Homo sapiens: one gene and its partners. The protein of the gene in region 1 purifies or fractionates together with the protein of each later gene. This does not show direct contact. Each region holds a gene or a part of one and is shown on either strand. Other genes may lie near its edges.

Region 1 (3,653 bases):
GCACACATCTGTAGTCCTAGATACTTGGGAGGCTGAGATGGAAGGATCATTTGAGCCCAAGAGTTCGAAGTTGGAGTGAGCTATGATTGTGCCACTGTACTCCAGCCTGGGTGACAGAGGGAGACCCCATTTTTTCTCTCTCTCTGTCTCTCTCTCTCGGTCTCTCTCTCTCTCTCTCTCTCTGTCTCTCTCTCTCTTTCACACACACACACACACACACACACACACACACTCAGAGACACCCCACAGAATTTTGCCAGTGCACTGTAGTTAATGGTCATGACCAGGCCTTCTTCATCTTTGCATGGGCAGCCAGAAGATACATTGCATTATTAAATGTCAGGAATTGAGTGGGATACTGCTTTAAACAGTTTTTCAAACTGAAGGCTGCGACAATTTGGGCCCTAGAATTAGTTTAGTAGAAAATTAATTATAATTGAATGAAATAGAATAGATAATATTAAGAAGTCATATATAAGGATGAGTTTTGCTTTCCCATGAATTATTTGTTGCAATTTGTATCTCTGTGCTAGGATGCAAAACATAATTCTTACTGTGGATTATGGGAAAAACAAGTTCAAAAGTTACTATTTTATGTAATTCTTAGGGGGTAATAGTGGGATTTCTCAGAAGGAAAAGCTGAAATTGAATTTTAGAACTTACATGAGGCAGGATGCACAGTAGATCTCTGGTCAGACCACCCAGATTGATATCCCCAGTTAACACTTTTTAGTTGTGTGATTTTGGACAAGTTACTTATGTATTCTGTGCCTCAGTTTCCTCATTTGTAAAATGAAGAGAGTACCAGCCATAAATAATCAAAAGGGTCAGATTCCAGTTTTCCAGAGTTTATTCAAGTGAAAAGTTGGCAATGGCCATTCCGGGACTCATCACTCCAGAGAAATGGGGATAGGGTTCCAAAGTTAAAAGCTAAATTCTTGCTTATATATAAGACAAAGAAATTTAGCAGGGTTACAACATTTTGTATACAAGCCTGGTTTAGTAGTTAAAAAAATTAGTTACAATTTGTTTTCTTTTCCACGCGGCTTGTTTTCTTTATAGCTGGTTTTCATTTCCTTTCCAACTTAAAAGAGTGTATTTAACATTCCATATTAAGGGACTGTGATAGCCATGATGTCTTGTATGAAAAAGGTAAGAGGGAGAATGAAAATCAACAGGAAGAGAGAAGGGGGTCTTCCCTGGGGCCCTTTGCCATTTACAACATTTTACAGAGCAATGCAGGTAAGGAAAAAGACTGAATTCAGACATACAACAGCTTACAGCTGCCTGTCACGTAGCTCAGGCCCTGTAATTCACATTCCTTGAAGGCTCAAAATACTTTTGAGTTCCAACAGCTTAGATTTTGCATTACTTATTTTTACAAGGGTAACCACCTTACAGTCCTTAAAAGGACTTAATGGGTAAGTATAATACGCTTAAATCAATACCTGGAGCATATGTGTTAGTTAGCATAATAATAATAATAGTTATTATTATTAAAGACAAGAGTTACTGTATGTCATAGGAGTTATGACAATCAACCAGAAGCTACTGTTTTATTGAATGCCTACATTGCTATTATATAAACAAAGGCAATTTGGAGTATGGCCCTGATCCTCATGTTACTTACGGAGGAAATGGACCTAACATGTATGAGACAATCAGAGAATAACAGACTGTCTCACGCAGTAAACATGACATCACATGTGTATAGGAGATATTAGGCTTTCATATTTTTATGGTAGCATTTTGTACTGTCCTGAAGCAAGTTAAAGCTTCGATTCTTAGCTCCTTGTAGAGGAACAAAGTATTTTTGAGTTTCCCTTCAGTGGTTCAGGACAGGGACTGGGGAGTTAAAAGCTCCTTTGGGGGTGGGGTGTTGGGAGAAAGGAGCACAGCATTAGAAAATGAGAATGTTAATGTATATATTGAATCAAGATCTTATTATCATAAGTAAACACTCATCCAAAAGGAAATATGGGAATTCTTTTTATTCCTGTATTTTTTTGGGGAAAATTTGAGGCAACTGCCTCAAATTACATTTAGTGTTCACATGCCATTTTACCTATGATGTTATTTAGAATTGTGGAGTTGTTGCCAAGAGGAGGAATTAGCTCAATTAAAGCACCTTCCAAATGAGACTGTTTAGTCTTAGCCATGAGTAAGTTGTTAGTAATTTGGATTATTATTAATTCTACTGCATAAGTCTGTGGAATACATGGAGAGACAAAGCAGACCTTTCTTAATATATATGCTTTCTTCTAGAGCAGTGCTTTGGAAACTTGTATGTGCATTCCAATCATCTGGGCATTTTTTTTTTTTTTTTTTGAGACAGAGTTTCACTCTTGTTGCCCAGGCTGGAGTACAATGGCACTATCTCGGCTCACTGCAACCTCTGCCTCCTGGGTTCAAGCGATTCTCCTGCCTCAGCCTTCTGAGTAGCTGGGATTACAGATGCCCCCACAATGTCCAGCTAATTTTTTGTATTTTTAGTAGAGATAGGGTTTCACCATATTGGCCAGGCTGGTCTTGAACTCCTGACTTCAGATGATCTACCTGCCTTGGCCTCCCAAAGTGCTGGGATTACAGGAGTGAGCCACCACGCCCAGACTCACCTGGGCATCTTTTTAAAACGCAGGTTCAGATTCTACAGATCTGAGGTGGGTCCTGAGATGCATCATTTCTAACAACCTCCTAGGTGATGCTGATGCTGCTGGTTTGCAAACTATACTTTGAATTGCAAGATTCAGATGTTGCTTTTTGTAAAAAACAAACAAAATCCCCCAAAACCAAAACCCAAAACTTTGTGTTTATATTTTATAATTTTTCTGACCAAATTTTTACCTAATTTACTTACTGAATCCCAATTTAGTCTTTGGCTAACAATTGGGCACTCAAATCTTTGCTGAGGAATGCATGTGTTCTATATCATAATCAATATCTTTAGAAACAATTCCCTTAATTAAAGGCACCCACAATTTTTAGTATTATCTGTAGAATTTTAATTTTATTTTATTGTGATAAATGGCTCTTTATGCAATGGAAATGTTGCCAGAGTCCCTGTTCTTGGACACCTCTTAAACCAAATGCCATTTAAATGACCACAGACTAAATACAAAGTAGGTAAATGCTTACAGGGAAAGGGGAAAGTGGATCAAGGTAGAAAAAAGACAATTTGTTTTAAACACTCTTAATACAACTTGTTCTCTCTCCCCTTAAACATGTTTAAAACAACGTAAAGCACAGATGATTGTCTGAAAGAAAAAGAAATCATTTGCACAGCCCCTGTTTTCCAGCTTGGTGCCCTTTGATGGGTGGTGAGTGGTAGCGATGTGGCCCAGTGAGACGGCACAGTCGCTCTTCCTGCAGGTCAGAATCTTCCTAGGCTGTTGCTCTTCCAAGGTACTCTGAGTCCTGCGATGGTGGCCTGGGGTTTTGTTTCCTAAGAAGTAGTTGCCATTATTTTGATTCATCCTACTGTTCTAACCAAAACAAAAACCAAAAAACTCCAAATGGTAACAGATATTCATATACCCGGACACCCAAGTCAGTGAGTGTCACGTGGCTTCCAGATTTGCATCTGTGCTGCAGTAGTCTTTCTTCCTGGCAGGTGTACTTTTGCATGTGATGGGAGATGCCCTGGGGTCCGTGGT
Region 2 (3,653 bases), on another chromosome or scaffold:
ACGGCTGCCAGCTGGTTGGCCCAGTGTCCATCCACAGTTGCCAGGATGTGGTAGACCAGCGTGTGGAAATGGATCCTGGTGAGATCCGAGGCTCTGCTTTTACTCCTCCCATGTTCTTTCAAGATCCAGAAGAGGATGTCACTGACCATGCCCACATCAGGAACACCGTTCCAGGAAGAGAGAGAAGAGTGAGGTCCAGAGGCTGACTGGGTGAGAAATAACAGCTCCTGTTCATTCAGCCCAAGGGAAGTCACCGCGGGAAAGACCTGCTAACAAAAACAACAACAGGTATCTTTCTGATGGAGATAACCTGGCTCCTAAGATGTCTTATGACACAGCCAGTGACTAAATGACAGGGAACACAGGCAGGCAGCTTTCTTCCTTGATACAGGACTCCCTGGCCCTGAAGTCACTGTTTTAGCTATCACACCCCTATCTTCACCTTCATCATCATTTGGGAGAAACTGGAAAGCTGCAGTAACATTGTTTCAGATGCAGTCTTTTGTGATATGCCACTGTAAGACAAAAGGCAGAGGTGTCTATATTTTGTGTTTCTTTCCATGGTCCCTAGCTTTTGCCACTGCACACATAGGAGATACTCTTACCACTGATGGGGCATGGCTCTCAGTTCCTGAATGTCAGCAGTATTAGACCAGTAAAATGGAGACCTCAAGCAACATACTGTCAGGGTTATAATGATTTTTTTTATACAAAACACCAAGAAGCAAAAAGCATACAGTTTCATGTTAGAGCTAAGCTTTTTAAAAGCAGGTGTGGGTTAGGAAGACTGTCTGAATTTAGCAATAACACTGTAAGAAAAAGATTACCAAACAGGTGCCCGTGTTTTCTGTCTGATGGGGAACCACAATATCCACCTCCCTGTCTTTCTTACTTAGCACTTCCCTCCTTAGAACCAGAGAACCACACTTAAGGTAACAATTTTTGCAGGAGAGAGGAGTCCTTGTATGTATGTGTGCATGTATAAAATGGTTTTAAAAATTTAATGGCCTACATCTTTGTTGGAGCAATAGCAGCTTTCCTTCACTGCATGTTCTTCTGTGTCAGGCACTGAGCTAAAGGCTTTATTTCATCCAATTCTTACTGTAATCTTCTGAGGGAAGGAGGGACTGCCTCCATTGTACAGACTAAGCCTCAGAAGGGTTAAGTAGACAGTTACAGAGAAAATGAAATAGAAATGGCTCATTTTTTTAAAGGTGAGAAGAAAAACCCAAACAAAAGCTATACTGAAAAACACCAAGAGTGAACCCAAGTGTAAACTATGGACTTTGGGTGCTGATGACGTGCCTGTGTAGGCTCACTAGCTTAACAAATGTACCACTCTGGTGCAGGCTGCTGGTAGTTGGGGAGGCTTGTGTGTGAGGGGACTGGAAGTATATGGGAACTCTCTTGGATTCTGCTCTATTTTGCTATGCACCTAATATTACCATAAAAAAAAAATGAAGTCTATCAAAAAAAAAAAAAACAAAACCAACGACAGTCAGCCCTCCATATCCATGGCTTCAACCAACTTCAGATGGAAAACAGAGTATTCAAGGATGTGGAACCTGCAGATAGGGAGGGCCAACTTGTCTAATCCACAGATTCCACAGGGCCAACTGCAGGACTTAACCATCTGCAGATTCTAGTATCTGGGAAGGGTTCTGGAACCGCCCCCGCCGCCCCACACACCGCTGATGACGAGGGATGACTGTATACTGAAATACCATTTTTTCATCTGTCAGACTGATATAAATGCAAATTTTAACATTCTGGTAGCAAGGATATGAGGGAACAAGTATTTGTAATTATTGCCAGTGGGAAGTAAACTGGTATAATTCTTATGGAGGGCAATCTGGCAATCTCAAAATTACAAGTGCTTTTTTATGCTCCAGTCCAGCTGTTCTACTTCTGAGACTTTCTCCTAAATATGGACTTGTTCACAGGCAAAACAAAATCATGTATCAAGTTGTTCACTGCAGCACTGTGTGTAACAGCAAAGGGCAGTAAATAACCAATATGTCCATCCAGAAGGTTCAGGTTAAGTAAACGGAGGTACATCTACACATTCATTTTAACCATATGGCTATGAAAAGACAGAGGATACTCTCCATGTTAGTGATGCAGGAAGATCTCCAAGATATATTTAGTGAAAAAAAGAGCAAAGTGAAGAACAGAGTATTCAGTAGGCTATGCTATCTTTTTGGGTAAAAAGGGATGGAAAACAAAATCAGGATATATTTCTGTATTTTCTTATACTTGTACAAAAGAACTCTGGAAATAAACTGATGAAGGGTGCAAGTAGGGAAGGGGAGGAAGTAGAAGGGAGACTTCATTGTATATCTTTTCATAGTTTTTGGGTATTTTTTAACCAAATGAATATATTACCAATTAAAATTAGGTAACACTAGATTGCCAGGTGAGGTAACTTGCCTGAGTTCATGAAGCCCGTGAGTGCAAGGCTGGCATGCGAACCCAGGTCTCCAGAGCTTGTGTTCTGAAGCTTCACCTGCTCAGATTTATACTAGTCAATGCTGCTGCCCAGAGGCAGGCACTGAACACCCAGATGCCTGAGGAAGGAGGGAGGTTCCCTCAAAGTTTCTTTGCTTTGAGCTTCTTGAAGTTCAACTGAAAGCAGCTGAGCTGGGCTTTCAGTTTTTTCCATTCACTTTCAACTTTTCCATTCCAGAGGAGAAATATGATCAACAATCTGTCAGTTACACTGCCATAACTTTAACCTAGTAGGAGATACTGCTGTTTCAGAACAGTCCTGGATCCTTATTTGGATCTCCATGGACTTGGGTCTGAGTGACACAAACCTACATGTCAGTGAGCCAGTCCCTGAGCCCAAACAGATGGTCCCACTGCACAAAAAAGCTTCTCTGCAAGGCTCTATGAGGATCAGGGCCAAACGATGGTCCCATGAGGTTACCTGATGGACAATGCTGCTCATGAGCTCCCTGTTAGTCATACTGGCCAGCTCTAGGTGAACTGGAATACCAGTGGGGATGTCAGAAATGGAGGTTACAACCTGCAAAGAGAAGAAGATAAGCACTGCCATTAGAAATAGAAGGAAGTCAAGAAAGAGGGAAGAAAAGATCAGATCCTGAGAGGCGGTTCCTCCTGGTAATGGCCTTCTTTGCATGCTCACGGGAGCTACAAGCAATGTGGGTCCCCACCACCTCTGTGGACAAGGGACACTCTTCCCACCAGGGAAGACTAGGCTGTGCAGAGCCATCAGGGATACAGAATCAGAGATGGCAGTTCACTTCGACTGCTGTACGAATCTGTAGGAGTTGCAGCATAGCTGATGTGAAGTGAGATGATACAAATAACACAAAGGACACAAACTACAAACCCTGCAGCTTGCAGCCATGGTCGGTTTAGCACAGGATGCAGAGGCTCAGGCAAGAAGATGTTCTGCCCTGTCCTACTCAAGCTGCTGCCCACATCTGAAGGGATACAGTGAGGTGCCTCACTGCAGCAGGAGGCAAGCTCCACAGCCAGCTGCCAAGATATGTCCCTGGGAGGCCAGGACCTAAGACAAGGCAGCAGATGCCAAGAGAGGCTGGAACCTGAAGAAAACCACCAGCTGAGATCTGTGAAATTCTGTAACAGTGCCATTACCTCCAAGAGTCTCTTCCTCTGGAGCTCCT
Region 3 (3,653 bases), on another chromosome or scaffold:
AACTGTTCTGCTTCTGCCTCCCCAGTGTGCTGGAATACATTTTTTCCCATTTAAAAATACTACATACTCATCATAGAAAATGTAGAAAAAAATAGACAAAAAAGATTTGTCCATCGTCCTGCCATCCAGAGGCAATCACTATTAACATTTGTTGAACTGCATTCTAGTCTTTTTCTTTTTTACAACACCGTGACTGTTCTGTTCATGTAAATGCTGTACCCTGATGCATTCCTCCCGCGCACAGAGTAGGCCAGTTGATTTGATGCAATAATGGGCTTGGTCACTATATACTTATATATGCGACTGGCGGATCCACAGTTTAGACAGCTCCATCACACTGGAAAGCTCAATTCTTTTTCTTTTAGAGACAGGGTCTCGCCATCTTGCCCAGGCTGGTCTTGAACTCCTGAGCTCAACCAATCTGCCTGCCTTAGCCTCCCCAAGTGCTGGGATTACAGGGATGAGCCACCACGCCTGGCCAAAACTCAATTCTTCTTTTTTCTTTCTTGCTCTGTTGCCCTGGCTGGAGTGCAATGGCGCGACCTTGGCTCACTGCAACCTCCGCTTCCAGGTTCAAGTGATTCTCTTGCCTCAGCCTCCCGAGTAGCTGGGACTACAGGTGTGCGCCACCATACTTGGCTAATTTTTGTATTTTTTAGTAGAGACAGGGTTTCACCATGTTGACCAGGTTGGTCTGGAACTCCTGACCTCAGGTGATCCACCCGCCTTGGCCTCCCAAAGTGCTGGGATTACAGGCACGAGCCACCATGCCCGGCCAAAAGCTCAGTCCTTTAATCAAAGTGTCTAATAAGTTTCACTAACTGTTCTTGGGATATTAAAAAACAATGAGCTTGACCTGTGTGGCCATCACGGCCCTCTGCGAAGCACAACCGCCAAAAGCCCTGGCCGTGGGTGGAACAGAACCCCTGGGCCCCATCCTGGCTGGACCGCGGGGGAGTTTCAGAATCTTGGGTAAGCCATGCCATCTTTCTGGGTCTCAGTTTCCTCGCTTGTAAGCTGTGAAGATGGACTGGAGCATGGCTACGTCCCTTCCAGCCTAAGGTTCCGTGCAGGAAAGGCCTGAGGCTGCCATCCTTGGAAAGACCTGCCTGCAAAGGTGGTGGCTGGCACCAGGGAGCTGGGATTTGGGGAGGGTTCCTGCCATTCCTTGATAAGAGCGGCTCACACTGCCTACACTGTCTAAATAAGGAGGTTTACGCTGAATACCCGCTTTCCTGCTGGAAGTCTGGAATTTAGGCACGTGCTGGGCAGAGGCGGGAGACCTGAACAGCCCCTAATACAAGCCTGGACACCGAGACTTTAATGAGCTTCCCTGGTAGGCAGCATGTTACAAGTGTTGTCACCACTCACTGCTGGAGGAATTAAGCCCATCCCGTGTGACTCTACCGGGAGAGGACTCTTGGAAGCTGGTGCCGGCTTCCTCCAAACGTCAACTCACACACCCTTCCCTTTGCTGATTCTGCCTTATGTCTTTTCGCTGTAATCACAGCGGTGAGAGAGCAGATTGCGGAGTCCTGAGTCCACCTGGGGCTGGTCTTGGGAGCCCTGATACGGGCTTTGTGACTCAACGCCTATGACCAGGAACCAAGAGTCCTCAGTGGGAAGACACCCTGTGCTTCACTGACTCATTTCGTGAACTGCTATTGAAACAGATGACATTACATATCCTACATCTCAAGTACTAAGCAAAATAACCATTTGTTACGATGATGACTCAAACATATTTCTGTCCAGCTCCATGAGCCCTCTGGTTGATTGTAAATAGAGCAGGAAGAGAATATGGACTGGGGGAAGGTTTTGTGAGCCCCGCTCGTTGGGTTAGGAGTTGACCTTTCTTTTGGTTTCTCAAAGTGGTGACACCAAGAACAGTCCCCTTTAGGAGCAGGTGTCACCAAGGTCTAACATCCCCATTATGTGCAGGGGGTGTTTCCAGTCTCTGTGGTGGAAATGGGAGACTGTATCTGGGCTTCTCAATCAGTTATCGCTTGTACAGCTCACTCTAATCTGCGGGAGCCGGAGCCAGCAGCACAGCTGACTCGAGACGGGCGCAGGCCAGGCCCCTCCAGGCAGAGGAGGGACAGCAGCACATGGGCTAGTGCCAGAGGGAGAGGAAGGCAGAGCACAGCGTTTGCTTTCCACCTTTGCTTCCAAGGAAGAAAAGCCATCACACACAGCATGTGCACTCAGAAACCAAGGGGGCTGCCTCGCAACAGAAGGCATCTGTAAGAAACAGGTACGAGGACAGCTTCCCAGCTAGAATGTGTGTTTCCTATTTTAATACCAAAGGAACAAAGGAGCCGATCCTATTCCTAAATTCAAATAGCAAAGATCCACTTCAAAAAGAAGAATTTCTTTTTCTTTTCTTTTTTTTTTTTTGAGATGGAGTCTTGCTCTGTCCCCCAGGCTGGAGTGCAGTGGTGCGATCTAGGCTCACTGCAACCTCTGCCTCCCGGGTTCTAGCAATTCTCCTGCCTCAGCCTCCCGAGTAGCTGGGATTACAGGTGCCCGCCACCACGTCCAGCTAATTTTTGTATTTTTAGTAGAGATGGGGTTTCACAAACATGTTGGTCAGGCTGGTCTCGAACTCCTGACCTCAGGTGATCCACCTGCCTCAGCCTCCCAAAGTGTTGGGATTACAGGCGTGAGCCACCACACCTGGCTCAAAAAGAGGCATTTCATGTGACTAAATGCAGGAGTTAATTTATAAGTCATAAATGGAAGTTAGAGTAAAATACAGTGTAATCCGTTATCATGGAGAAGAGGGATTGAAAAACTGAAAAAAATAGAAAGCAAACATCACTTGCAGTCCTAACCAGCCAAACGTGGCTTCGGTTGACACTTTGGTATATTTCAGTGCCATTTAAAATCTGCCCCTAGGGAGGTGGTCAGGTCGGGGGAGAGGGGGTCAGCAGCGGTGGGGTTGGAGGGCTTCTGGGGTAGTGGTAATGCTCTACTTCTTGGTCTGGGTGGTAGTTAAATGGGTGTGTTCTCTGGTGAAAATGCACTGAGCTGTCCTTTTATGATCAGGTACTCTTCTGTGCATACTGACATACACATCAATAAAAGGTTAAAAAAAGATGCTAGGTGCTTTACTTTTAAGTACTAAAGCTGTAATCATCACTCATTCATTATATCCTAAGTATAAATCTTGTACATATTTTTACTATATATAAATACCTAGTTGTACCTATAGTACATATATAGTTTCACCTAGTAAATGAAAATCTTAAATGTTTTCCATATTTACTGCATTTTAACAGTTGTATTATTTGAGTAAATGTATAATCAGTTAATTTATTTATTATTGACAACTACAGTTGCTAATGAATCTTTTTTTTATTTTATTTTATTTTTTGAGACAGAGTCTCACTCTGTCGCCCAGGCTGGAGTGCAGTGGCCGATCTTGGCTCACTGCAACCTCCGCTTCCCAGGTTCAAGCAATTCTCCTGCCTCAGCCTCCCAAGTGGCTAGGATTACAGGTGCCCACCACCACCCCAGCTAATTTTTGTATTTTTAGTAGAGACGGGGTTTTGCCATGTTGGCCAGGCTGGTCTTGAACTCCTGATCTCAGGTGATCCACCTGCCTTGGCCTCCCAAAGTGCTGGAATTACAGGCATGAGCCAACGTGCCTG

The links.
Region 2: the proteins of SLC30A10 (region 1) and ADPGK purify together in Homo sapiens (affinity purification with mass spectrometry; one large-scale study listed by BioGRID and IntAct). This does not show direct contact.
Region 3: the proteins of SLC30A10 (region 1) and ADCY9 purify together in Homo sapiens (affinity purification with mass spectrometry; one large-scale study listed by BioGRID and IntAct). This does not show direct contact.

What each region holds. Positions count from the first base shown.
Region 1 is NC_000001.11:219,918,452-219,922,104, reverse strand, and holds part of SLC30A10 (calcium/manganese antiporter SLC30A10), read left to right. Parts: intron 1-3,610; coding exon 3,611-3,653. UniProt on the Homo sapiens protein: Calcium:manganese antiporter of the plasma membrane mediating the efflux of intracellular manganese coupled to an active extracellular calcium exchange.
Region 2 is NC_000015.10:72,752,627-72,756,279, forward strand, and holds part of ADPGK (ADP-dependent glucokinase isoform 4 precursor), read right to left. Parts: coding exon 3,625-3,653; intron 3,029-3,624; coding exon 2,930-3,028; intron 516-2,929; coding exon of another isoform or gene 489-515; exon of another isoform or gene 443-488; intron 270-442; coding exon 1-269. UniProt on the Homo sapiens protein: Catalyzes the phosphorylation of D-glucose to D-glucose 6-phosphate using ADP as the phosphate donor. GDP and CDP can replace ADP, but with reduced efficiency.
Region 3 is NC_000016.10:3,969,851-3,973,503, forward strand, and holds part of ADCY9 (adenylate cyclase type 9), read right to left. Parts: intron 1-3,653. UniProt on the Homo sapiens protein: Adenylyl cyclase that catalyzes the formation of the signaling molecule cAMP in response to activation of G protein-coupled receptors.